Linked DNA regions of Homo sapiens. Changing the gene in region 4 together with the main gene of any one other region gives a genetic interaction. Each region holds a gene or a part of one and is shown on either strand. Other genes may lie near its edges. The genes, in order: ARMH3, SGMS1, TM9SF2 and PTAR1.

Region 1 (7,038 bases), on a different chromosome or scaffold from region 4:
GTTTTTCTTAAAGTATACACAGACCATGAACTTTCTTTTTTTTTTTTTTTTTTTCCCAGACAGAGTCTTCGCTCTGTCGCCCAGGCTGGAGTGCAGTGGCACAATCTCAGCTGACTGCAAGCTCCGCCTCCTGGGTTCACGCCATACTCCTGCCTCAGCCTCCCAAGTAGCTGAGACTACAGGCGCCCACCACTGCGCCCAGATAATTTTTTGTATTTTTTGTAGAGACGGGGTTTCACCGTGGTCTCGATCTCCTGACCTTGTGATCCGCCCGCCTCGGCCTCCCAAGGTGCTGGTATTACAGGCGTGAGCCATGGCGCCCGGCCTACACAGACCATGAATTTTCTAACATTCAGTTCTTTAAAATAGATTTGTACACATTAAATGTGTACATATTTGTACTTACATATAGAGATCCATAGGAAACTCCTTCATCATGTGTGTTACAATAAACTCTACCATCAGGTCTGAAAGGGGAATAGAGAAAAACTGGATCAATTACAATGGAATTCATTTCTTGTCTTTGAGTTGGAAAAAAAGCTTCTGAGTACACCTTGCACTCACACTGAACGGCATCCACTAACCACATCTTTATTCATATACACTTATTTTATATAACGCATTTTGTGTAACACTGTTCACCACCTGCCACTTGTAAAGTAATAAGAAATTATTTCACTTGCTGACCTCCAGAAGGATACCCTGACCTGCCAATAAATTCAGATAAATGGAAAATTTCATTGTATAGATATTTCATCCCATGGCATTAATGCAGACTGCCAAAGGGAAATCATATTCTGAGACTAGACAATGAAGCAAGCTCTGAGAAGAAATTATGGATCACATTTGTGTAACCAGAGACTCAGCTCTAAAGCTATGTCAGTCAATCTCATCTTACTATCATGCTCAGTTAGACAGATATTGACTGAAATGGGCTGTGGGGCTTTGGGTCAAGAGAGGCTTATTATACAGCCTTAATTACTGTTTCTAAAATTAAGTAGATTTAGAAACTGGGGCTGAATATCCAAGTGAAATGGGATTAAGAATTCAGCTAATTCCCTGAGGAAAATGCAGAATTCTGGACAGACAAAATTACCCAAGATACAGCCCCCTACCTGTCAACTCAGTCAGCCTCATCTCAGTTTAATATACTCAGGGGAAGTTTTGTATATGTAAACCATGAACTTCAAGCCTCCTGGCCAGCCAGCACATCAATTCAAACCAAGAAAGGATGGGAAGAATTTGAAATCTTTTTTTTTTTTGAGATGCAGTCTCGCCCCAGCTGGAGTGCAATGCCGTGATCTTGGCTCACTGCAACCTCTGCCTCCTGGGTTCAAGCGATTCTCCTGCCTCGGCCTCCTGAGTAGCTGGGATTACAGGCGCACGCCAACACGACCAGCTAATTTTTGTATTTTCAGTACAGACAGGTTTTCACCATGTTGGCCAAGCTGATCTCAAACTCCTGACCTCAAGTGATCCGCCCACCTCAGCCTCCCAAAGTGCTGTGATTACAGGTGTGAGCCACTGCGCCCAGCCTGAAATCTTGATCATGTATCTTGTAAATCATGTATCAAGTTTAGACACAGCCATTTGTCTCACTGGAATGACTTTTTTCTTTGAACAACAGGACCCTTTTATTGACCACTCTATAACTGGGGTTGCTTTACCAAACACAACAATAAACATGATTCTTAGGCCAGGGAAAAAACACAACTAATAATTTATTTGCGGAAGAAGCACATCAAACAGGTTCTACTCTTCATCTTCATCATGAAAGCCTATCGCTGTCACAGAACAATGTCAATGTTGATGATACTCACTCACCCAGTACTGCACATACTAAAGGACGGCAGGGAAGATTCTTGTCTGCTGCCTTCTTCCTGTGTCTCATAGGCTTCACACCAAAAAAATGAAGAAAGGAAATTAGTAGACACCGGCACTGACATCCAATGGCCCATCATCATGTTCCTTGTGCAAATAAAATCACTATTACAGGGATACTTCCTTTTCTTTCTCTTTTTCACATGGTGGGAGAGGAATGAGGTAGCATGGGATGAGGCGGGGAAGGGAGGACTTGTGAATGCTTCAGTTATCAATGCACGCCTGTTACAAAATTACAATTCACAACCTCAAAGGGCACTAGAGAATACTACAATGGGAAAACTGTTGGTTTTACTTTGCTTTTAGTTATATAAGTGGCATTACTAACGACAAAAGAGGTACACTGGTGTTTTTCTTTGACGATAAATAATAATAATAAAAAAAAGAGGAAGTGATGGTGCCACCTATAGAAGCAGCAACAGTAGTAGTTGCAAAAAAATAAAGAAAGTTTTACATCTAAACCTCAATGTAATTTTTTTTTTTTTTTTGAGACGGAGTCTCGCTCTGTTGCCCAGGCTGGAGTGAAGTGGCACGATCTCGGCTCACTGCAAGCTCTGTCTCCTGGATTCGCGCCATTCTCCTGACTCAGCCTCTTGAGTAGCTGGGACTACAGGTGCCTGCCACCACACCCGGCTAATTTTTTGTACTTTTAGTAGAAACGGGGTTTCATCCTGTTAGCCAGGGTGGTCTCAATCTCCTGACCTTGTGATCCCGCCTTGGCCTCCCAAAGTGTTGGGATTACAGGTATGAGCCACCAAGCCCGGCCCTCAATGTGATATTTTTTAACATACCTCCAAGCTTTAAGAAATTCCCTGATCCTCCATATTCTATTTGCCCACTTCTCAGATGAACAAATCTGAGCAGCAGCTAGTCTTAGCCACTCAAAAATTATACTACATTTTGAAAACAAAAGGCTTAGAACCATTTCCTTGCTGAAACCTATATTATTGAAATCCAGTATCAGGCCAGGCGCGGTGGCTCACACCTGTAATCTCAGCACTTTGGCAGGCCAAGGCGGGCAGATCATCTGAGGTCAGGAGCTGGAGACCAGCCTGGCCAACGTGGTGAAACCCCATCTGTAACGAAAATACAAAAATTAGCCGAGCGTGGTGGCAGCCACCTGTAATCCCAGCTACTCAGGAGGCTGAGGCAGAAGAACTGCTTGAGCCCAAGAGGCAGAGGTTGCAGTGAGCAGAGATCACACCATTGCACTCCAGCCTGGGGGGGAGAGAGAGAGAGAGAGACTCTCCCTCAAAAAAAGAAAAAAAAAAAAAAAGAAATCCAGTATCATTGCCACGCTTGTGAATCTTCCAAAACTCTTGATTAAGAAACAGCTCCATGACACACAAAAATCCCAACAACAAGCATGGGTCTGTTGAACAGCCGTCATGCAAAGCCCTTTGGCACAACTTTCCACCCACATTTGTTCTAGTAAGATCAATTTCATCCCAACCCTGCCGACATACAAAAAATTTCCTCTAAGAAAAAACAAGAAGCAAAAGAAACACCTACCATTCTATGTAAGTTTACTCGAAAATTCATGTTGTCATCATGCAAAAATGCATTGGCATATTGATCCTAATAAAAATATAGAGAAAAAGTAAGAAGCGAGAGCTATATTTAAGAAACTGTAATCTATCACACTTCGTACAAATCCTTGGACTTTGAGAACTACTTTCAAGGATCAGCTGGACAGCTAATAGGATGAGCCTAGAGCCTTATGTCAAACCCTACTTAAGCCATGAGATTTTTCTTTAGTGTAATTTCCCAGTGTATCTCTAACTGGTCAAAAATTTCCAAGCAAAAACAATAAAAATTAAGACGCAGGGACTTAAGGCAGATGCTGAGAGGAATGAGAGTAATCTGTTTTCCTATTCCCTCTTCCGTCCCATCTGCCCAAGGAGCTGGCTCTGTTTGTGATAGTTTAAGGTTTTCACAGAGGCTGCAGGATTCATGTGCAGGCTCCACATGAGGGTTTAGGAGCAAGAAGAAAAATCTGTGCTCTGCTGGGAATGGGTTCAGCCCAACAGAAGCAAACTGCTACACAGGCAGCGTGGAAGCAGGCAAGACCCTGTCTATTCCGGGCTTTCCTGAAGACTGACAGAAAATCAAAAACCTCTTACCATGGATTAGTAATAAACATCCCTTGGCCCTTTCCCAATACCTTTTCTGAAGATCTGACAAGCCTACAGACTCCAATTACAAGGAACTGTTACAATTTGTGAAAAACAACTCCTTTAAAGATTTTCTTAGAAAGATTTTTGAAAAGCAATTATACCAGGCCCACTGCTAATAAGCAGCTCTTCCATAACCAGCCACCCCTAATCTTGTGAAAAGGAGGTCATCTTTCCACAGAGAACATGAAGAGAGAGAGACTGAGAGAGATCTCTACTTCATGTGGAATATCTTCACCATTTTTCTTAAGAGAGAAAAGAGCAGAGTGGGGAATAGTAAAGGGGGAGGTTGAAGCTATAAATTTAGCTCTAAACTCACTCAAGTTCTGCCATGCCTGTGTGTCACCAAGATACATGGTGAGTTTGAACCTAATTAGTCCAACCAAAAGTGGCTTCTTAAAAAGCCAAAGCATCTCTTCTTTTTTCCCCTCAGCTCTTGTTCCTCGGCAAACTGCAATTACTGAGTTTCCAATTCCCCTCTCTGGCTTTACTATCCACCCCTTCACCCCATCACAGGAAACCTGAGCTCCTTTTTTATTTTTTAAACTGCTCCACTGCCGAGCATGGTGGCTCACGCCTGTAATCCCAGCACTTTGGGAGGCCGAGGTGGGTGGATCACCTGAGGTCAGGAGTTTGACACCAGCCTGGCCAACATGGCAAAACCCCATCTCTACTAAAATTACAAAAATTAGCCGGGCAAGGTGGCACTGCCTGTAATCCCAGCTACTAGAGGGGCCGAGGCACGAGGATCGCTTGAACCTGGGAGGTGGAGGTTGCAGTGAGCCAAGATCATGCCACTGCACTCCAGCCTGGGCAACAGAGCGATACTCCGTCTCAAAACAAACAAACAAACAAACTGCTCCACAGTTTAAAAACACAGTGCTAAACAGCGTGGAAGCAGACAAGACCCTGTCTATCCATGGCTTCATCGAAGACTACACTCTAGTGGGAGAAGACAGATAATACAAAGGGGGAAGATTTTCTCTCCTAAACTTTAGGACCCTAAATGTCATGAGACAGTAATGGGGTGAGGGGAGGCAGGGAAAGATAGCACTTTGTAAAAGACTGCCTAATAGCAGAAGGCTCGTGAGACCTACCTCTGCAATACATGTAAGGATAATCAGACAGAGTTTGCCACTGTGAAGCCTGTGTTCATCTGTAAAGAAAAAAGAAACTCTTCTCTGTAAATCATCCAGATTTACATCATCTGTTTCAATACAGAACAAGGACGTATATCATAAAAGGAAACATTCACACTTTCTCTTCCCACAAAATCCATAAATGAAAATCAAGGTACTACTATAGTAATTCTTGCTTCCCTCCTAGGCAAAAGAATTCCCCCAGAAGATTTATTTTTTTAATATCCTGGTAGTCTGTTAAATGGCTAACCACCTTCCTGAAAGCCATCTAACTCACAATGGTTCCTACTGTCATGGCTCAAATAGTGGCCAGTACTCTCACATCAGCCCTTTGCTGATAGAACTTGAATAGTCAGGTCCATTTCCTTTTCCACCCACCCTCTCATCTGCCAGCTCTAAGCACCACCTACCACAAAATCTAGAAAGATTTCATGACTGCTCATAGCAAACTGGCAATGAAATCAAAAAGAAATTAACTGGAGACTAGGGTCCAGCCCACGCTTCTCCTTGCAATTGTATACTTATGCCCTAGAAAGCTGTGAACTCTTGATCATTTTTCTTCCTGTCAAAGTTACTCATTCAACAAATATTTACTTAGCACTACTATGTGGCAGGCACTGTGCAAGGCACTAGAGATATAGCACTGAATAAAACAGACAAAGGTCCCTGGTCTCTCACAACTCACATTCTAGTTATTAAAAAAGAAGAAGACAACCTCAGTAGCAGGGCTCTAAGCCCACACACAAAAGGACAAAAAAGAGCTAATCCATTACTGCCAAGTACGAGAACCCATCAAGCTTATGTTACTTTCCAGAAACTCTGTGGGTGAAGGAGTGAAAAGGAAGTAAGAAGAGGATCATGCCAGCATAGCCAAAACAGACAAATGGCTCATGATTTTCAAATTAGCTTCAACAGGACCCAGAATGAAGTCCAATCTAGAGAGAAGACCTCTTAATGGATTAGAGTGCTGTAGAAGTTAGCTATTACTATTTACCCTGACATTGACCTGCTTCTTTCTCAAAAATGGGATCTATCAATTAAAACCTGACAATTAGATGGCATAATGGGGATTACAATCCACAAATATACTCACATCTCCTCAGAGATAGGCAATGCAAAAAGAGTAATGGTGACAATCCCTATCTGACACTCCCTGGAGCTTCATCAAAGCCCCGATATAGCCAAAGAGTAATGCCCTTGCCTCCAGAAAACTAGATTCACAACTCTTCTACCCACCTTTAGCCAGTTTCTATGGCACTATCCTCCCACAAACTGATACGCAACTCCCACAGAAAAGCCTGCAGCTATCTCTCCACTTAAAATTTTTTTTAATTTTAAAATTAAAGTGTTTATGAATACAAAACTAGGCTTATTTCATTATAGACAGTCTTTTAAACTCTAAAAAAGCATATACACACAAAACAATGAAAATCAAATTTAATCATACCACCCAAATGTTATAACTGTTAAGACTTTGGTGAATCAACTTTAAGTCTATGCATAGATATACATGGTTTTTACAATTTTTTGCCTAGTATCTATTATAAAGGTTGAGCAGAAGCTTCTTTAAGGTGACACCACCAAAGTCAGAAAAATCCCAAGTAATAAAGGCTTTAAAAGCAGGGGAAAACCCAAGGGAATAGGGGCTGGGCTCAGTGGCTCACACCTCTAATCCCAGCACTTTGGGAGGCTGAGGTGGGATGATCACCTGAGGTCAGGAGTTGGAGACAAGCTTGGCCAACATGGTGAAACCCCTTCTCTACTAAAGATACAAAAATCAGCCAGGCGTGGTGGCATGCACCTGTAATCCCAGCTACTCAGGAGGCTGAGGCAAGAGAATCGCT
Region 2 (7,038 bases), on a different chromosome or scaffold from region 4:
GTTAGGAGTAAAACTTAGAGTTACATGCAGTTTCTGCACAAATATCTTTTAAAGAAATAGATCTCTTTTTTGTTGTTCACCAACAAAATTGTCATGAGAGTATGGATAACTAATTCATAGCTTTCAAGTTTTAGGTAAGTGATCATTTTCAAAACTCTCTTTAAGAAAAGATATTCATGGCTGTTTTCATTGAGTAGTTAAAATTGAACTACCAAATCGACGATAAAATAATTTAAGTGGTACATGTCATTGCTACCTGATCACAATATGTGAACAGGCTCTGACTCTAATTAACAACCTCATTATTTAAGTCATTGCAATTTTAAAACCATAAGCAGTCTTCTGATTCAATTTAGCTATAAATGCAAAATTTAGTAGTGTATACATATATTTATATTTTCAAGGAATACTTTATTTTAAATAAAAACATTTAAGATTGCCTACTGACCATACAATCAAGACAAGAAAGGCACTAGAAACATAGACAAATTTCTCTCCCAAGATGCATTTTTAAATTTTAACTCTCTTCTCTCTGACATGTTAAAAATCTTTAAATTTGGTGTTCATAACATCATTTTGAAAAATAAAGTTAGGAAATACTTAGAAAATCACTTTATAACAGAATCTTTTTTTTTGCACTTTTTGAAACACTGCCTTTGCTGATTTTACAAAACCCAAAGTTACCAAACCTTTCTGTGTCTATCATTTTTATTTGAATATCGGTGCAACAGGTAGAAAGATTTCAGAATCAAACCCCATTCAGGTACTTAGAAACCTTCATAGAGACATTTGCTAGAAAATGGCTTACAGCCCAATCTTTGGGGCAAGAGATATGAAAAGTATGTTTTCCCAAGAAAATAATACGCTTTATTTCCAGATGTGACTGGAAAGACCAGAACTTATGATATAAAAGCTTACATTTATGCTGCTGCATCATATACAAAGGAACATGGTGGTTGCGGGTTATGTAAATCCCAAACTTATGAACAGGAAATGTGTACAGTGCATGATAGGTTAAATTTTTCTTTATTGTTGTCCAACGCAGGTCCTTTGGAGAGAAAAAAAGATCACAGTGCTGACCAGGTAACTCAATAGGTTAAGTCAAGGTAACCATTGAAAGATAATAGGATTAGGGAGGTGTTTATTTTATGGCATCTTCTCTCATGGAGTTCTTAGCACTTCGGACAATTTGTCTTTTCCCCACTTTGTACAGCTGTTATGTGTCATTCACCAGCCGGCTGTATTTAACTTGCCTACTGAGGTGGACTACTGGCCAGGGGAAAGGCCAATGGTAAGATCGAGGTACAATTCCTTGGACATTCTTTTCAAAGTACTGAAATGGCCTGTACCACCACACCCTGGCCAGGAGGTTCATCTGGGAAGCTTCCTTTAGCACCTAGGATAACAAAGAAACATAAACACATTTCTTACAATCTTTCACTTTAAGTTCAAATACTTGCCACGCTAAAATTCCCAAAGGACTCCATACCTGCCCTGCGTGTCCACCCACATATCCCAGCTTCTCTCTCTCATCACCATTCTACACTCCACATTCATCTACAAACTGAGCCACATCCCAGTAGAAAAACAACGCCAATTCTGGGAGGGCAAGGAGAACTTATGGCTCACTCATCTCTTGCTTATAAATAAACACCTCAGTTAGCTTTTTAGGTATTCCTCTTCTATGCTAAAAATGTTAACACTTAATTAAATGTTAAATATTAAGCTTGTGATGTGCCCCGGGTAGGGAGAAGAGGATAGGAAAGCAAATCAAGCAAGGAGGGACACAAGCTTAGAAAATATTTTTCATTTTTCAAGGACAATGAAAGTGCGTTCCTTATTCTAGAAGGAAGTAATTCCTCACATCATTATATTAATAAACTTTTTATTCTTAATTCTGAAGAGAATCAATGTCACAAAAAAACAATACAATCTTAGTTGATTACTACTTAAGAAAGAGAAACTTCAGACATCCACAGGTTCTTTGCACCCTGTCCAAGCCAGCAACATCAAGCCAGAAACAACAGAAGCTAAAATCAAAAGCGGGGAAACTCACTTGCTGATTGGCCATAGTGTGATACCACCAGAAGAGTCTCGTGGTGATGTAATATGCCACCACCACGTCCACAGTGTAGTGGTCATGCGCTAAGAGAATACAGAAGATTCCAACTACGCTGAGAAGCCAGCAAATCCAGTGATACCACCAGAGTCGCCGAGGGGAATCTGAAAGGGGGAGAGATTTGCAATAGTCCCATTATTCAAATGACATTAAGGGCACCCAACTATGCCTCTACTAATGCTTCTGAATCCAATTACCTTGAGTCTTCCCTTCTGAAAACAGATCTAGTGAATCTAAGGGCTGTCATTTATCTGTAACCAAGGTTAGAACAGAAACAGCTTTTTATGATGTGATTATACTAGTGATAGTAATTCATATTTGGTTCTTACTTGATTCATACAATCATAAATAGAGTTTAAAAGATGAGGCTAATCAAATAAGGACAGGTTAATGCATCATGTTTCGTTTTTAAAAACTGTCCATTGACATTTAAATTTACCTCTAGCTAATTTGGGGTTGATGCTCTACACAAAAATCAATACCTTTTGGCCCACAGAGCCTAATACAAGGACTAAGCAGTCATAACTGATTTAACTGTACTGCTTTCCAAGTTCTGCAACCATACACTAATCTGAAAGTCTTTGAGATTTTCATTTCTCAAATACAAGCAGAAAAGCATCCAGACGCCTGGGAATTCTAGTTCAAGTGCCTTCTCAAAGGTCGAATGGTGTCAGATAAATACTTGTCTGTATCCCCATTTGGGAAATTACCTGAGAAAAACATCAAAATTTCTATTAGTGCAGGCCTTTCTACCTTGGATTCTCAATTGTGGGATTCAGAGGCTCTGCAGTGTTAGGCAAAATGTTGTTTGAATATGATCTATACTCTCTACACCAGCATGACAGGTTCAGACTTTTATTGGATTCTCAATGGGTCCAAGAACCAGTCATTCATTCAACCAATATTCATTGAGCCTCTTACATGCCAGGGACAGGCAATGCTCTAGATACCTGGATCAATGAATAAAAAAGGCAAGGAGGCTGCCTTTGTGGGAAGATCCCTTCCTAGTGGGGAAGAGAGATAAGAGACAATACTTATAATAAATAATTTACACATTATGTTAGGTGTTAAAGGCTGTGGAAAAATAATAAAGTTGAGCTGGATAAGGGGGATCAGAAGTATAGGGAGTGAAGGGCAGTTTGCAATTTTAAATGGAGCAGTTAGGGTAGGAATATTCTAGTAATATTTGTATTTGATACCTTGACAATACAAAAACAAGAAACAGCTACCATTCAGTCTCTGTGTGACTCTATTAGTATCCATATATGCCATCTAATTTTAATGTTCATAAACTTTTTCCCACCCGATGAAGCAGATGTGAATATCTCATTCTAAACATGAGGAAACTAAGACTTAGGTTAAAGTTTCTTCCCAGGGTCATAGAGCTAGTAAGTGATAGTACCAACGCCTCTGCCTCTCAATATGACACATTGCCTTATTGTCAAGATGGATAAGCCTTGACCCCGTTAAAGAATTTCAGGTATCAGGCAGCAGGAGCCAGGAATCCCTCCCCCAGGGGTGCTGACATCTGGCCTATGTGATTCCTACTGTCCACATCCAGTTACATTCCAGTCCAAAGGCTAGATTATGCCCTGACAATTCTGAACAGATCTTGCTAGAACTCACTATATCTGCTCACGTACTAAGTATAAGCACTGGAACATCTATTCTCCCTTTTCTATCTCAGTGCCCTGAAGTGCATCTCTCTTCCCTTCCTGTATTTCCTTATCTTAGTTTTTCAAGAACAAAACTAGGTTTCGACCCAGTCCACTACCTGTTTTCTCTACCCCATAATCCATCCTGTTATCTGCTGACTCTCTTTATTAATGTCTTAAAGTGTCTGTCACTTCTCTCCATCCCTGATGCCATCAGGCTAGTTTCCTTTGTTACTGCAGCAATCTCCTAACTTTTCTCCCGGTCTCCAGTTTGGTCCCCCATCCAGTCCATCCTGCAAGCTGCTGCAAGAGTGATTTTTCTCTCTTCAAAGACAAATGACACTGCCCCACTGGTTACAACCCCTCAATGGGCACCCGATCTACATCAGCTGAGAGTTCAGACCCTCTTCTTGTGGCTTAAGCACCCCCTGTGATCTGGTTCCCACTTACCTGTCCATTCTTATTATTACCCCTACTCTGAATTCCACCCACTTAAACTTCCAGAGAGTACCACATGCTCCCAAGACACCTCCAGAAGGCAAAGCATCTCCCTCCTCTGTGATACCACAGCAGCCTGGTTCTACTCATTGCTCTTCATGGAAACCCCCCTGTATAATGCTTATCAGACTGTTTCTAACAATGTGATATTGAGCATAATAAAATTTTCCATAAGTAGAGAAATGAATAAATATGTGTAGTTCATTTCTAGCACTGTAATATTAATAGCAATTAAAGTGAATGGACCAAAATCTCATATCTCAAAAACATAATTTGAGGGTAAATAGTGGCAGAAGAATATAAATGGCAGTATGCCATTTATGTATATAAATTTAAAAAACCACAAAACAATAATACACAAGTCCAAAAAAATGGATGGAAATGATATAGGAAAGGAATGAAAAGGTTTTAATCATATATTAACATTTCATTTCCTTTCTAAAAGGGTTATCTGAATTAAATATGACAAAATGCTAATATATATTAAATCTGAGCCATGTATGCGGTATTTATAATATTATTTTGTGATTTCACAATAAAATATTTTAAGTACGTTTCTTAAGGGAAATTTCCCATTTAGTATCTGCCTCAGCCCTGAGCCCATGGCCTTGTTGAGGACAGGGATGAGTCTGACCCATCACTGTACCCTCAGGCATGTAGCATAGTGCCAAGTGCTGAAAAAATAGTTGCTGCATCAACACATAATCTACCATCACCCAATCAGGCTTGATACTGGATTTCTGTGTCCCTTTGAGATTTCCATCTGGCTCCTTACAGCAGCTGTATAACTGGCTCATAACACACCCTGCAGGCTGTGCTTGGAACTGCCTCCACCCCAGTACTACAGATGACACTCCAGGACACCTCGTCCTCAGGAAGACCAGTTCTGTCCTTCCACATATTTCCCTGGGTGCCAGTTGCATGGCGATGAGATGAAGCTGCAAGCCTCCTGAAGCCTCCAGTCTTGCTTCAGCAGATTTTCCAGAAAATGAGCTTTACCAGAGGACCAGAGTTCATGAGAAATGGCAGGTGAGGAAATTACAATGGAAGTCTTTTAGACTTACACTCTTTGATAAATAAGTAGGTAAGTGTTAGCATGACCGTGTGGCCGCTGTACAGATAGTCCCCACACATGTTGTGAGAGCCAGTGATAGACAAGCCACCTCCAGCAATGAGCTTCATTATTCTTCGCAGTTGGGCTTCCCAGTCTCCGAAAAGCTGGCAGAAAAAAAGAAAAGAAGAAAAAGAAGATTCATTACGAGCCCACATGAAAATGTGCGAAGATTACTATTCATATCCAGAATTAAGCTTATATTAAGAAACATAAAATCCCCACCAGGAAGTTTGCCCACTCAGTGTTTACCATTCCAAGAGTAGCCCTTGGGGCGGGGGGGTGGGATGGTCCTACAAATGAATCACGTGGCTTCAGGACTTTTCACAGTTAGCACTTTTTAAAGCACGTGTCAGTAGATGTTTCCCCAGTTTTTCAAAAATTACAATGACAGAGAAACAGTACTTCTATCTGACTGACTGAATAATTGCTTTAGTATAACTATCATTTGGGAAAAATAAAATTTAAATCTGTAGTCTAGGAAAAATTTAAAGATGTATTTTTATCATGGTTGGCCTAGAAGACAACTGTCCTACTACACTTGGCTAAAGCAGCTGAAGGTTTGGGTAGTCAAATATATGAATATTTTTGGTATGTGGATGTTCAGGGATCATGTTGAAACAAGGGATGTGCCTTTAATCTTCTCAAATTATGTAGGTAACATTGAATAATTTTCCAGATTATAAATTAATTTACCTGTCTATGATACAAGTCTGGGCTGGACACCGGAGTAATAAATAGCTTGAACAACTCATTCATTACAACCTTTATTTGCTCGGTCAAGTAAAATGTGTAACTGTCTATATTTTATGCTTGTTAGTACTCTTTTAAATTCTGGTTGTCTAATTTAATTACCATGATCCAATTTAATTAAATTCTGGTTGTCCAATTTAATTACCATGATTTCAATATTTAACTTATAAGAATCTAGCTTTGGGCAACATGTTTTATTATAATTTCCTTTTAAAAAATTATCAAGACTTCTGATTAAGGATGGAAGGATGATACATCAGTGAAGTGTGAGAAATTAAAAAAAAAAAAAAAAAAGAATGGCAGATGGAGCACACCACACAGAGGATATAAATTTCCAAATCCAAAGAGATCACTGAATGCTCAACATAATGGAAGAAAACAGATCTACATATCAAGACTCAGCATCATGGGATTTTAGAATCTGGGGACTAAGAAGAGACTCTAAAGCCTCCAGAGATTAAAAACAAGCTTTACATGAAGGATCATTAGAATAAGACTTTTCAAAAGCCACACTGAAAAACAGAAAGCTTTGAGAAAATGCCTTTAGATTTTGTGGGAAAATGATTTCCCACTTAGAATTCTGTACCCAGCCATATTACTACTAAGCATAAACTGAAGGATAAACTAAGGATAAATTAAAGCCTTTTTCATATATACACGATTTAAAAATATTTACCGCTTATATACTCTTTTCCAGGAATCACAGAGGGTACAGTCTCCAAAACAAGGGAGTAAACATGGAGAAAAGAAGAAATGGGACTCACTACGATGCCAAAAAAGGAGAGATGAAGGACTTCACAGTAGCTCACAAGTTTGGGCTGGAAAGCAAACAGCCAGAATGCTCTGGAGGGATGTCATCATGGAGATGAGCCCAACAGAATACCCAATGCCTCTGGCTGTAT
Region 3 (4,115 bases), on a different chromosome or scaffold from region 4:
GTGCTACGTGATAAATTTAGGTCCAGAGCTGTAAATTTTAATAAATCATCTATAAAACAGCAGTAGCCAGTGAAACAAGGAATGACTGTTTTTGTGCCCTGTGTGTCCATAAATGCATATACAGAATAATTTATTCCTAGCCTACACACAAAAAATAACGATCATTGTGAATATCTGTTGTTTTTCCAGACATATGATACAGAAAATGATAGCTTAACCATCACCTAAATTTTATTTATTTTTATTTATTTTATTTTTATTTTTTTGAGACGGAGTCTCACTCTTTTGCCCAGGCTGGAGTGCAGTGGCGCGATCTCAGCTCACTGCAAACTCTGCCTCCCAGGTTCACGCCATTCTCCTGCCTCAGCCTCCCGAGTAGCTGGGACTACAGGCGCCCGCCACTGCGCCCGGCTAATTTTTTTTATTTTTAGTAGAGATGGGGTTTCACCATGTTAGCCAGGATGGTCTCGAACCCCTGACCTCAGACGATCTGCCCGCCTTGGCCTCCCGAAGTGCTCGGATTGGGCGTGAGCCACTGCGCCCAGCTGATTTTGTTTTTTAAAGTGTTATATTTTCATTCATTCAGAGTTGAATTTTGTAATCTGAATTATGGAGTCATATCAAATGGAACCAACCAGTTAAACCAGTAACTTATAGTGTATTTCACTTTCTTCAATTGTATTTTTCCTTTAGTGAACAGGTGGAAGCATTCTGGATAAGGGAGTAGTGAGCCCTTTAAATGCCTTACCTTTCTCTAAAATAGGGTATGGTCTGTATTTGCTTCAGTACTCCAGAGCAATGCCATTTTATTGTATTTAAGTCAATCCATTTTACAAAACAGAAGTAATTATTCTGTCACAAAAGGAAAGACGCCACTTTTAGTACGTACATATATTCCATATTAAGAACAAAATTAAGTAACTAAACTTAAGTTTCTTAGAGTTGCCTGGATAGTGATTAAATGTTCTTCTCATCTTAAAATATTGTTTGTCATCTTGAAATTTATGCAAGTAAGTACAAAGTTATATAAATATACTGAGTTTTCATTATTGCTTTTCTGAAATTAACCCCAGCCCTAGCCTGAATAATTATCCTTTTGACTATGCAAAAGGTATATTTGTATGTCCTCCAAAACACACATTGTGCTTTGCATATAGTAGGGCCTCAATACATGTACAATGTAAGGATGGATATAATGATGTTTGTAATTTCCCACGGTAATGTCCCATGTATAGTCTCTTGATTTAGAAAATCTCCTTTAATATTTTCTCAGAGTACTGCATTTAAAACAATGGTGAAAACTATTGGGACTTTAAATGTAAAATTTATACAAGGATTATTTATAGTCCCTTATGTGTGCATGTGCAAGGAGTACTATGCTTGAAGTCAGAAAAAACGCATTTGATTTCTGGCCACAAGTACCATCCATGTGACCATGAGACAGTCACTTAACCCCTTTGAACCTCATTTTTGTCTCATTGAAAGAGTGTCCCCATCTAGCATTCAAATTCTTTGGAATCTAGACTGATACCTGAAAATCAAGCCATACATTGTTTTCATGAATTATCTCATTTACTCTACATAATAGTCTATGGAGGCAATGAGGACAGATAAATTTCTCCCTAGTTAATATGATAAATGGGCTTGGAGATGTCAGTGGACTTGCCCAAGGATGACACACACAGTTTGTGACAGAGCTGCTCTGTTCTCTGCTACCATGCTGTCCCTCATTTTCAGCTAGGATGCATTTTTGTTACTATCTAATCATGTCACTTTTAACATTTTGTAAAAACTTACTGAGTTATTTTATTATAATTCTTTGAAGACTGATAACTTCCAATAACTGTACTTAGAAAATATCCCCATTTAATCATTATTTGAACCTGTTTTAATGTATTCATCTCATACCTTAAAAAATTCTAGTAGCGTTTTCCATTTTGTTGTAAAATATTCTTAAATAGGAAAGGACAGTTGACATCCTTCAGTCTTTTCTATGTAGTAAGGAAAATAATGTGTATTGTAGAAAGCTTAGGTAATCTTATAGTAGAAAAAAGTTCTACCAATTTTTGTAAGAAACTTGATTTGAGGTGGTCGTATATTTTTCAGACGTGCTCATAGATCTGTAGTATATTCCCGGTGGGTAATAGTTTATAGTTTTGCGACTTTTTTAAGGAACCAGTCATTGTAAGTCTGTATTTTTGTGTAAAGTATGAAACTTCCTTTGAAAAGGGGTTTATTTTTATTTTTTCTCTTATAGGAACAATTGGCTTCTTTGCATGCTTTTGGTTTGTTACCAAAATATACAGTGTGGTGAAGGTTGACTGAAGAAGTCCAGTGTGTCCAGTTAAAACAGAAATAAATTAAACTCTTCATCAACAAAGACCTGTTTTTGTGACTGCCTTGAGTTTTATCAGAATTATTGGCCTAGTAATCCTTCAGAAACACCGTAATTCTAAATAAACCTCTTCCCATACACCTTTCCCCCATAAGATGTGTCTTCAACACTATAAAGCATTTGTATTGTGATTTGATTAAGTATATATTTGGTTGTTCTCAATGAAGAGCAAATTTAAATATTATGTGCATTTGTAAATACAGTAGCTATAAAATTTTCCATACTTCTAATGGCAGAATAGAGGAGGCCATATTAAATAATACTGATGAAAGGCAGGACACTGCATTGTAAATAGGATTTTCTAGGCTCGGTAGGCAGAAAGAATTATTTTTCTTTGAAGGAAATAACTTTTTATCATGGTAATTTTGAAGGATGATTCCTATGATGTGTTCACCAGGGGAATGTGGCTTTTAAAGAAAATCTTCTATTGGTTGTAACTGTTCATATCTTCTTACTTTTCTGTGTTGACTTCATTATTCCCATGGTATTGGCCTTTTAAACTATGTGCCTCTGAGTCTTTCAATTTATAAATTTGTTATCTTAATAAATATTATAAAAATGTCTTCATTGCATCATTACCTATTATATATTCAAGGAGGTTCTGTAAATACAGATCTATTTACCAAGGTGTTTTGAAATGATTTATACTATTTTATCAGATTTTACTGGATTTTGTTAATGTAACACTTTCTGAGTTTTGATCTGAATGGAATTTCACTGTGTAAGGCATTGTCTAAAATGTTCACTGTGAGGCAGTAGAGGAGGTTGAAGTCATGCATATCTAGACAGATGAATTATCTGCAAGTACTTAAGGTGGAGCCTTACTACATTGTCATTAAGGAGTTTCTATTTTTGACTTGTTTTTCAAAATACAGTGTTTTAAGTCAGGTTTTATTACCTGGACATTAGCAATCACTAGCAAGTCTTCATCTTTATGATTTCATTGTTTTAATTTAGATTTCACAAACAGTTTTACTTCTAAGAGTTAAGAAATGCACTGTCTTTCACATTCATCTGACTAATTGAAATCCATTTATGTAGAATATAGGAATGGGGGGTGATTCTGAAGTATCGGTCTGCTTGTATCTGTGAGCATATTCATTTGTATTTTAGGGTCTCTCTGCTTGCTGCTTAGGAGAGCAAATCAGATACTGTCATTAAACTTACAACTAAAATTACTAGCTGTCACTTATATGATATTGCTGGGTTCTTACTGAATAATTTTTTTTTTTTTTTGAGACAGAGTTTCCTTCTTGTTGCCCAGGCTGGAGTGCAATGGCGAGATCTCGGCTCACCACAACCTCCGCCTCCCAGGTTCAAGCAATTCTCCTGCCTCAGCCTCCTGAGTAGCTGGGATTACAGGCATGTGCCACCACGCCCGGCTAATTTTGTATTTTTAGTAGAGACGGCATTTCTCCATGTTGGTCACACTGGTTTCAAACTCCTGACCTCAGGTGATCTGCCCGCCTCGGCCTCCCAAAGTGCTGGGATTACAGGTGTGAGCCACTGCGCCCAGCCTTACTGAATAATTTTATGTCACTGTCCTTTTTTAAAAAAACGGACCTGTTGGTTTTGAAGAGTAAAGGAGGAGCTCTGTTCATTTTTAACATGGAATATTTAAGATAGAAGAGTTTCTTTCAGTTTTATGTATCTCTTGTATTTATTTTTTATGGGTAGAGTTGTCCCTTAGTATTTATGGGAGATTGGTTCCAGAACCCTT
Region 4 (7,038 bases):
TTATTAGCATTGAATGAGACAGCAAATACTTTAAAGTGTTTGAAACAGTGCTTGGCACATGGTAAATGCTGAACAGATAGTAATACATACACACAACAATGCTATAGATTTTTTTCTTGTATTTTTTATAAAAGCATATATTTGTTTTCTAGTCAGAAAAAGGTTAAAGAATAAAGATTGATTAAAAGTAGTATAGGGTGGAATTATGACACTAATTTTCTATTTTATGTTCTCTCTGATGTCTGCATGCTTAAATAAACATTTAAGTAAATTTTAAAATATTTTTATATTTGAGGGTAGTGTGGCAGGAAAGATTCACAGTCAGGCAGTTTATTACTACTGGCAAATTACAAGTTTCACATAAAAAAAGCACATATAGTCATTTCTCCAAAAAACCTACCCACACCACCAATAAGGACATGAAAAGATATTCACCATCTTTACTATTAGGGAAATGCAAAGCAAAACCACAGGGAGTGAGATACCACTTCACACCAAAATACGGACAATAACAAATGTTGGTTAGGATGTGGAGAAACTGAAACTCTTATTTATGGCTGGTAAGAATGTAAAATGGTACAGCCACTGTGGAAAGCAGTTTGGCATTTCCTCAAATAATTAAACATAGAATCACTATATATTAATAAAACTATAGTTAATATATATCATATTCTTGGAGAAAAACATGCATTACCATATATGACCCTGTAATTCTGCTCCTAGGTATATACCCAAGAGAAGTGAAAACACATTCCATACCAAATCTTGTATGAGAACATTAATAGCCATATTATTTATAATAGCCAAAAAATAATACCTCACCTGAGGAATGGAAAACAAAATGTGGCGTATCCATGCAATAGAACATTGGCCATAAAAAAGGAAGGAAATACTGATACATGCTATAACGTGGATGAACCTTGAAAACATGCTGATTGAAAGCAGTCAGATTCAAGGCCACATATTGTATGATTTCATTTATATAACATGTTCAGAATAGGCAAAGCAGGTTAGTGGGTGCCAGAGGCTGGGGAGGAGGGAATGGGATGTAACTTCTAATAGGAATGGGGTTTTGTGGGGGTGGTGAAAACATTAGAAATTAGATAAGAGCAATGGTTGCACAATTCTGTGAATATATTAAAAACCACTGATTTATTTTTTCACTTCAAAAATGATTCTAAAGTACATTAGAGAGAATAAAGCTTAAAGAATAGCTGAGGAATTGTTGGGAAAAACAATAAAGAACACTCTACCATTAGATACTTACATGTTTATTAATAAGACAGAGTAATTAAAATTGTGATGCTATTTCAAAAATAGACTCAGTAATGGAACAGAATATAAAGTCCAGAAACAAATTCCAATACATAATATGTACATATTTCATTAATGATGAATATGGCATTTCACATAATTAGAGAAAGGATTCCCTGTTCAATTTGTGATGCTGGTAAAATTTATTGACTTTTTAGAAAATAGAAAGTTAGGTGGTTTTTTTTTTTTAATCTTAAATACCAAATTGAACTTTAAATGGAATAAAAACCTATATGAAGAAAAGAGACTCACATTATGCTAAGTGAAATAAGCCAAGCGCAGAAGGATAAATATTGCATGGTGTCACTTGTAGGTGGACTCTAAACAAGTTGAACTCATGGAAATAGTAGAATGGTGATTGCAGGAGTAGGGGTTGTGGTGGGGAACAGGGAGTTGCTGGTTAAAGGGTACAAAGTTTCCGTTAGGATGAGTAAGTTCTGGAGGTCTAATGGTAGAACATGGTAATTACTGTTAATAATGTATACCCAAAGATTTCTAAGAGCGTTATCTTAAATGTTCTTACCACAAAAAATAAAATACTTATGTGAGGTGATAGATAAGTTAATTCACTTGATGGTGGTAATCATTTCACAGTGTATACATAAAAACAATATGTCGTACATCGTATATATATATGTGTGTGTATACGTGTGTGTGTGTGTGTGTGTGTGTGTATATACACAATTTTAATTTGTCATTTATACTTCTTCAATAGACCTGAGGGAGAAAAGAAAAAAAAGAATTTTACTTGACTCCCAATCTTTAAAAAAAAAAAAAGAATTTAAAAAATCAGTTGCAGTAATATATCGAAAATAATATTTATAACACATATGACAAATAGAGACTTAATATCTTTAATATGTAAAGACCTCTTACAAACTCGTAAGAAAAATAATGACTATCACAAATAGTAAATTAGATAATTCATAAAAGTAGAGAATTAGGCAAAATAGGCAGTTCATAAATGAAGAAGCAAAGGAAAAGTAATCACACAAGAAAAGATATTTAGGCTTAATGATAATTAAGGAAATGTAAATTAAAATGAAATGTGATTCTTATTAGTGAAGATTAAAGTATTGATGATGAATTTAGGAAATAAGCATTAACATGTACTTCCAATAGGAGTATAAATTATACAGTCTTTCTGCAGGACACTTTATATATCAAGAACTTTATAAAGTTTTTTTCTTTGTTCCAGCAAGTATATTTCTACAAATTTCTCCTAAATAATTAGATATGTACATAGATTTATTTATGAGTGTTACTTATACAAGAGTAGAAACAAACACAGGAATGGTTAAATTCTGTTAATCTTGAGGGTGAAATATTTTACGAGTTAAAAATTATAGAATAATATTTAATGCCATAGGAATGTATTTATAATTGAAGTAGAATAAAATTGGTACAAAAGAATATCCCAGATTTTTCTTAAAAATAAACTCTGTGCATGTGCATACATAGAAAAAAACCTGAAAGATTTGTTTTCTGCCAGAATGTTACAAGTAGTGATCTCTGGCCAACAAAATAATGGATGATTTTTGTTTGCTTTTTTATATTTTCCCATATTATTGGAATTTTCTATATTGATCATTTTGTATCACTTTTATAATCAGAAGAAAACCCAAATACTATTTTTAAAAGTTTAAAGGACCTATGGCATATGTATTTTTAGTAGTCTTTCATTTTTAGCACGTTATCCCTCTTTTTCATAGCCCTGCATTTGCAGTTTTCTTGTAGTTTATTTATTCACTTATTCATGTTTTCATATGGAAGTAGGAAAAGAAAGATATTTAACGTATATCATACGAAGGTCATTTATCCCATCAGTACTGTACATTAAAGCCATATCTTCATATAGTATCTTTAGATCACTTAAAAGTTAACTGGATCACTTAAAAGTAATTGCTGTCTTTTTTAAAAAAATCATTGCCTCTATCTTTATATCTTTTTATTCTAACAAGAGAATACCCTGAAATTCCAGTTAAAGTTTCTAATATGCATCTTTATATCTTAGGGAAAAGAATATAGTGGATTTTCTCTTTAAAAGCCTAAGAATTTTTTTAAGAAATTGATTTTGTTGAAAATATATATATATATTTTTTTTCTTTTTTGAGATGGAGTCTTGTTTTGTCGCCCAGGCTGGAGTATAGTGGAGCAATCTCGGCTCACTGCAACCTATACCTCCCAGGTTCGAGTTATTCTCCTGCCTCAGCCTCCCAAGTAGCTGGGACTACAGGCATGCACCACCACGCCCTGCAAATTTTTGTATTTTTAGTAGAGACAGGGTCTCACCATTTTGGCCAGGCTGGTCTCCAACTCCTGACCTCAGGTGATCCGTCCGCCCCAGCCTCCCAAAGTGCTGGGATTACAGGTATGAGCCACCACGCACAGCCAGAACATCTTTTATATGTGTGCTATTTTTGCCTCAAAATTAAATAATAAACTGCAATTTTATACATAGAAATATCCAGTTAGAAATAATCTAAATGTTTTCATATTATATAAGTTCATTTTAAATAAGTGGAGTACTCTTTTCAATCCATGTTAAGAAGCCATGCCAAAATAAAAAAGCTGCTGTATTATAGCCAGAATGTTCTACAGGTTTATTTTTCAAAAATGTAATAAATGTAAGATTGATTTTTATTTCAGGTAGGAGTTTATCTGGTGCTATTTTTCTTCACCTTTTAAAATCAAATAAAGATACTGTTTTCCATTTCTCAGATACTTGCCAGCTATAGCCTCTGGAATAAATTTAGGTGGCTATGAATAAACTCATTGGAACTTAAAGGAGATGTTTAAAACATATCACTGATACAACTTGACTATCTTGGCTGGAAGTAATCTTACTATTTGCCTTATTTATTAAATTGTTCATTCATTTCATAAAATATTTATGTATCCACTTTGATGTCAGTAGGTATAGGGGGATTGAAGTATCAGATAGGAATGAATAAATATCTTAAAGCCCTCACTCACTGAGTTTAATGAGAATGAAGAGATGCACTGAAATTCTTTAATAAATGTGATGGAATACATAAGTACTATGGGGGTTCAGCAAAAGGAAAGATTCCCGCGGAAGAAAAATGGTGTAAGAAATGGAAAAAAGATCATGGTACAGGAGAAGGCATTTGCCTGGGACCTTTGACAAACAGGTAAAGGTGTCATTCAGCATTATGCTGTCTGTATTGTTAACTGTTCACAAATGTATGTCTTTTTTCCTTAGCTGGTCTGAAAATCCTCTGACGGAACGTGGTAGGCACTTGATATACCTTTCACTGATTTATGTTTGCGACCTGTCCAAGACACTCTCAAATAAATTATTTTTGCATAGGTGCTGCTTTTTAAAAAATCATTTCATTTGAAATTCTTTAGTTTGCAAGATATTGGTATCACAAAGATTTAAACAATTTGCTGCTGAATTTTCAGTTATTTTAAAACCCATTTATTATTACTGTTAAGTAAGTTTGAGACAGTTAAAGTCACGAGCTCTTGAAAAAATCTTATTATTAGTGCATCATGTTTTTCTACTAATCCCTTATAATTAAGTAGTGAGCAAGACAGACACGGTCTCTGCCCTCATGACATTTATATTGAAGAACAAATAATTTCACTGAGCCTATTGTAGAGATAATAAGTTACATATTATACACATTTATTAAATGTAAAATAAAGTTTATATCAAAGTAATCTGAGTTTATATTTTTGCTTTTACGTCAGCATTACTTGTAAATGAATACCCTAATGCTCATCATTATTTTAGAATTTTATTTTCCTTCTCTGTGTGTACCAATCAGAATGTGAGTAGTCAAGGTCTAGGGAAAGGATGACAAATGAGTCCTTAAATTCTTTAGTCTTAAAAAAAAATCTATCACTTTTATATGGGAAAGAGAAAATTCGCATGTATTAAGCTTCCACTAAGTGAGAGCACTGTGCTAGACATTGTGTACAAAATATTGGTAAGAATGGTCTTGTCAAAAAAGGAACAAATCAAAGAGAAATCAGAGGCAATAATGGAGAAAGAAGAACCTTTGGGAACTCTTCTTCTTACTTCCCTTTTTTCTTCTTAAAAGATTCTTCTTGATGAACTATCTTCTACTAAACATTGGGCATCTATGCACGTTTCAGACCACAGTGGATTTCACTACCGCCAGTTTTTGCTTAAGTCTTTGATTAGCCAAACTGTGATAGACAGTTCTGTGATGGAGCAAAATCCTTTGAGAAGTGAGCCAGCCCTAGTTCCTCCAAAAGATGAAGAAGCAGCAGTTTCAACAGAAGAACCAAGGATTAATCTTCCCCATCTTCTAGAAGAAGAAGTTGAATTCAGCACTGATCTTATTGATTCCTACCCAGGACATGAAACCCTTTGGTGTCATAGGTAAGAAAAGGGAAAATCTATTTCCTACACAAAACTGCATGTCTTCATGAGAGCTGCAGAAAGTGTTAGTTACACCTGATTCCTGCCTGCTTGGGTAAACATGGTCATCTGATTGTGGAGCTTTGCCTGAGTGAATACAAGAGGTTTTGTGTTACCATATCATCGTCATCATCATCATCATCATCATTAATAAGAGATTCCTCATGTAGATCTCTGCCTGCAGCTTAGGATGGTGATATTCAACCTTGACTGTGCAACAGAATAACCTGTGTTAGTTCCAAAATAAAACAGAATCAGAAGTTTTTTTGACTCCTTCCTTGGAGATACTAATATTTAGCATATCTAGGATGGATTGCTGCCATCTCTCTTTTTTTTTTTTTTTTTTTGAGATAGAGTTTTGCTCTTCTTGCCCAGGCTGGAGTGCAATAGCGCGATCTCGGCTCACTGCAATCTCGGCCTCCAAGGTTCAAGCAATTCTCCTGCCTCAGCCTTCCAAGTAGGTGGGATTATAGGCACCCACCACCACACCGGGCTAATTTTTGTGTTTTTAGTAGAGACGGAATTTCACCATGTTGGCCAGGCTGGTCTCGAACTCCTGACCTCAGGTGATCTGCCTGCCTTGGCCTCCCAAAGTGCTGGGATTACAGGTGTGAGCCACCATGCCTGGCCCTTTTTTTTTTTTCCCCCCTAGAAAAAGCTCAACACATTGATGCACAGTCAGGATTGAGATTTGATTAGACCCCAAGAATAAGGTATGCTTTATCATTTTTCCAACCCTGATGGTCTGCAAATTAACTTACCTGAAGTATAATCTCTTGACACTTTTTGTTTAAAGTGTAAGAGAATTTCTCTTTGAGAGAGGGGAAAGTCTGGTAGCAAAGAGTGAAAAAGGGTTAGCAACCTATCAACTTCAGTTGTGAGTACATTTGACAGTATGTTGGACTGAAGTCACATATGTGACCCCTTCCCAGCTTCATTTCTTTTGGATCTTCCTTTATTTGGAGGCATCTTCATCTTCATAAATACAGATTCTACTTTAGGCCATAGCATTGTATTTGTAAATGAAAGACTTGCCTGTGCTAGGCAGGAAGGAGGTAGGCATTGTTTAAAATTGCCTATTTCTAAAGTTATTGAGATTTTCTTTCTTTCTCCAGTCTAGTCTGTCTTGCAGGTTATTTGAGGAGACCTGGTCAGCTGCTTTTCCTTACTAAATATATTCAGAACATAAAAGATTATCTCCCCTCTTTGGCACCTTCATTAGTAGAGAACATTCTTTTTCTCTTAAAACCAAGACACTTATTTCATGTTTTCAAGAGGGAAGATAGACCTTTTAAGCTACTGGCATACCT

Evidence for each region.
Region 1: changes in PTAR1 (region 4) and ARMH3 are lethal when combined (synthetic lethality), as found in Homo sapiens cells (one study listed by BioGRID).
Region 2: changes in PTAR1 (region 4) and SGMS1 are lethal when combined (synthetic lethality), as found in Homo sapiens cells (one study listed by BioGRID).
Region 3: changes in PTAR1 (region 4) and TM9SF2 are lethal when combined (synthetic lethality), as found in Homo sapiens cells (one study listed by BioGRID).

Annotation. Positions count from the first base shown.
Region 1 is NC_000010.11:101,990,145-101,997,182, forward strand, and holds part of ARMH3 (armadillo-like helical domain-containing protein 3), read right to left. Parts: intron 5,212-7,038; coding exon 5,153-5,211; intron 3,460-5,152; coding exon 3,394-3,459; intron 1,895-3,393; coding exon 1,825-1,894; intron 468-1,824; coding exon 407-467; intron 1-406. UniProt on the Homo sapiens protein: Involved in GBF1 recruitment, Golgi maintenance and protein secretion.
Region 2 is NC_000010.11:50,305,926-50,312,963, forward strand, and holds part of SGMS1 (phosphatidylcholine:ceramide cholinephosphotransferase 1), read right to left. Parts: intron 5,491-7,038; coding exon 5,337-5,490; intron 2,224-5,336; coding exon 2,057-2,223; intron 1,397-2,056; coding exon 1,217-1,396; 3' UTR 1-1,216. UniProt on the Homo sapiens protein: Major sphingomyelin synthase at the Golgi apparatus.
Region 3 is NC_000013.11:99,560,434-99,564,548, forward strand, and holds the end of TM9SF2 (transmembrane 9 superfamily member 2 precursor), read left to right. Parts: intron 1-2,257; coding exon 2,258-2,325; 3' UTR 2,326-3,615; downstream 3,616-4,115. UniProt on the Homo sapiens protein: In the intracellular compartments, may function as a channel or small molecule transporter.
Region 4 is NC_000009.12:69,721,977-69,729,014, reverse strand, and holds part of PTAR1 (protein prenyltransferase alpha subunit repeat-containing protein 1), read left to right. Parts: intron 1-5,384; coding exon 5,385-5,689; intron 5,690-7,038.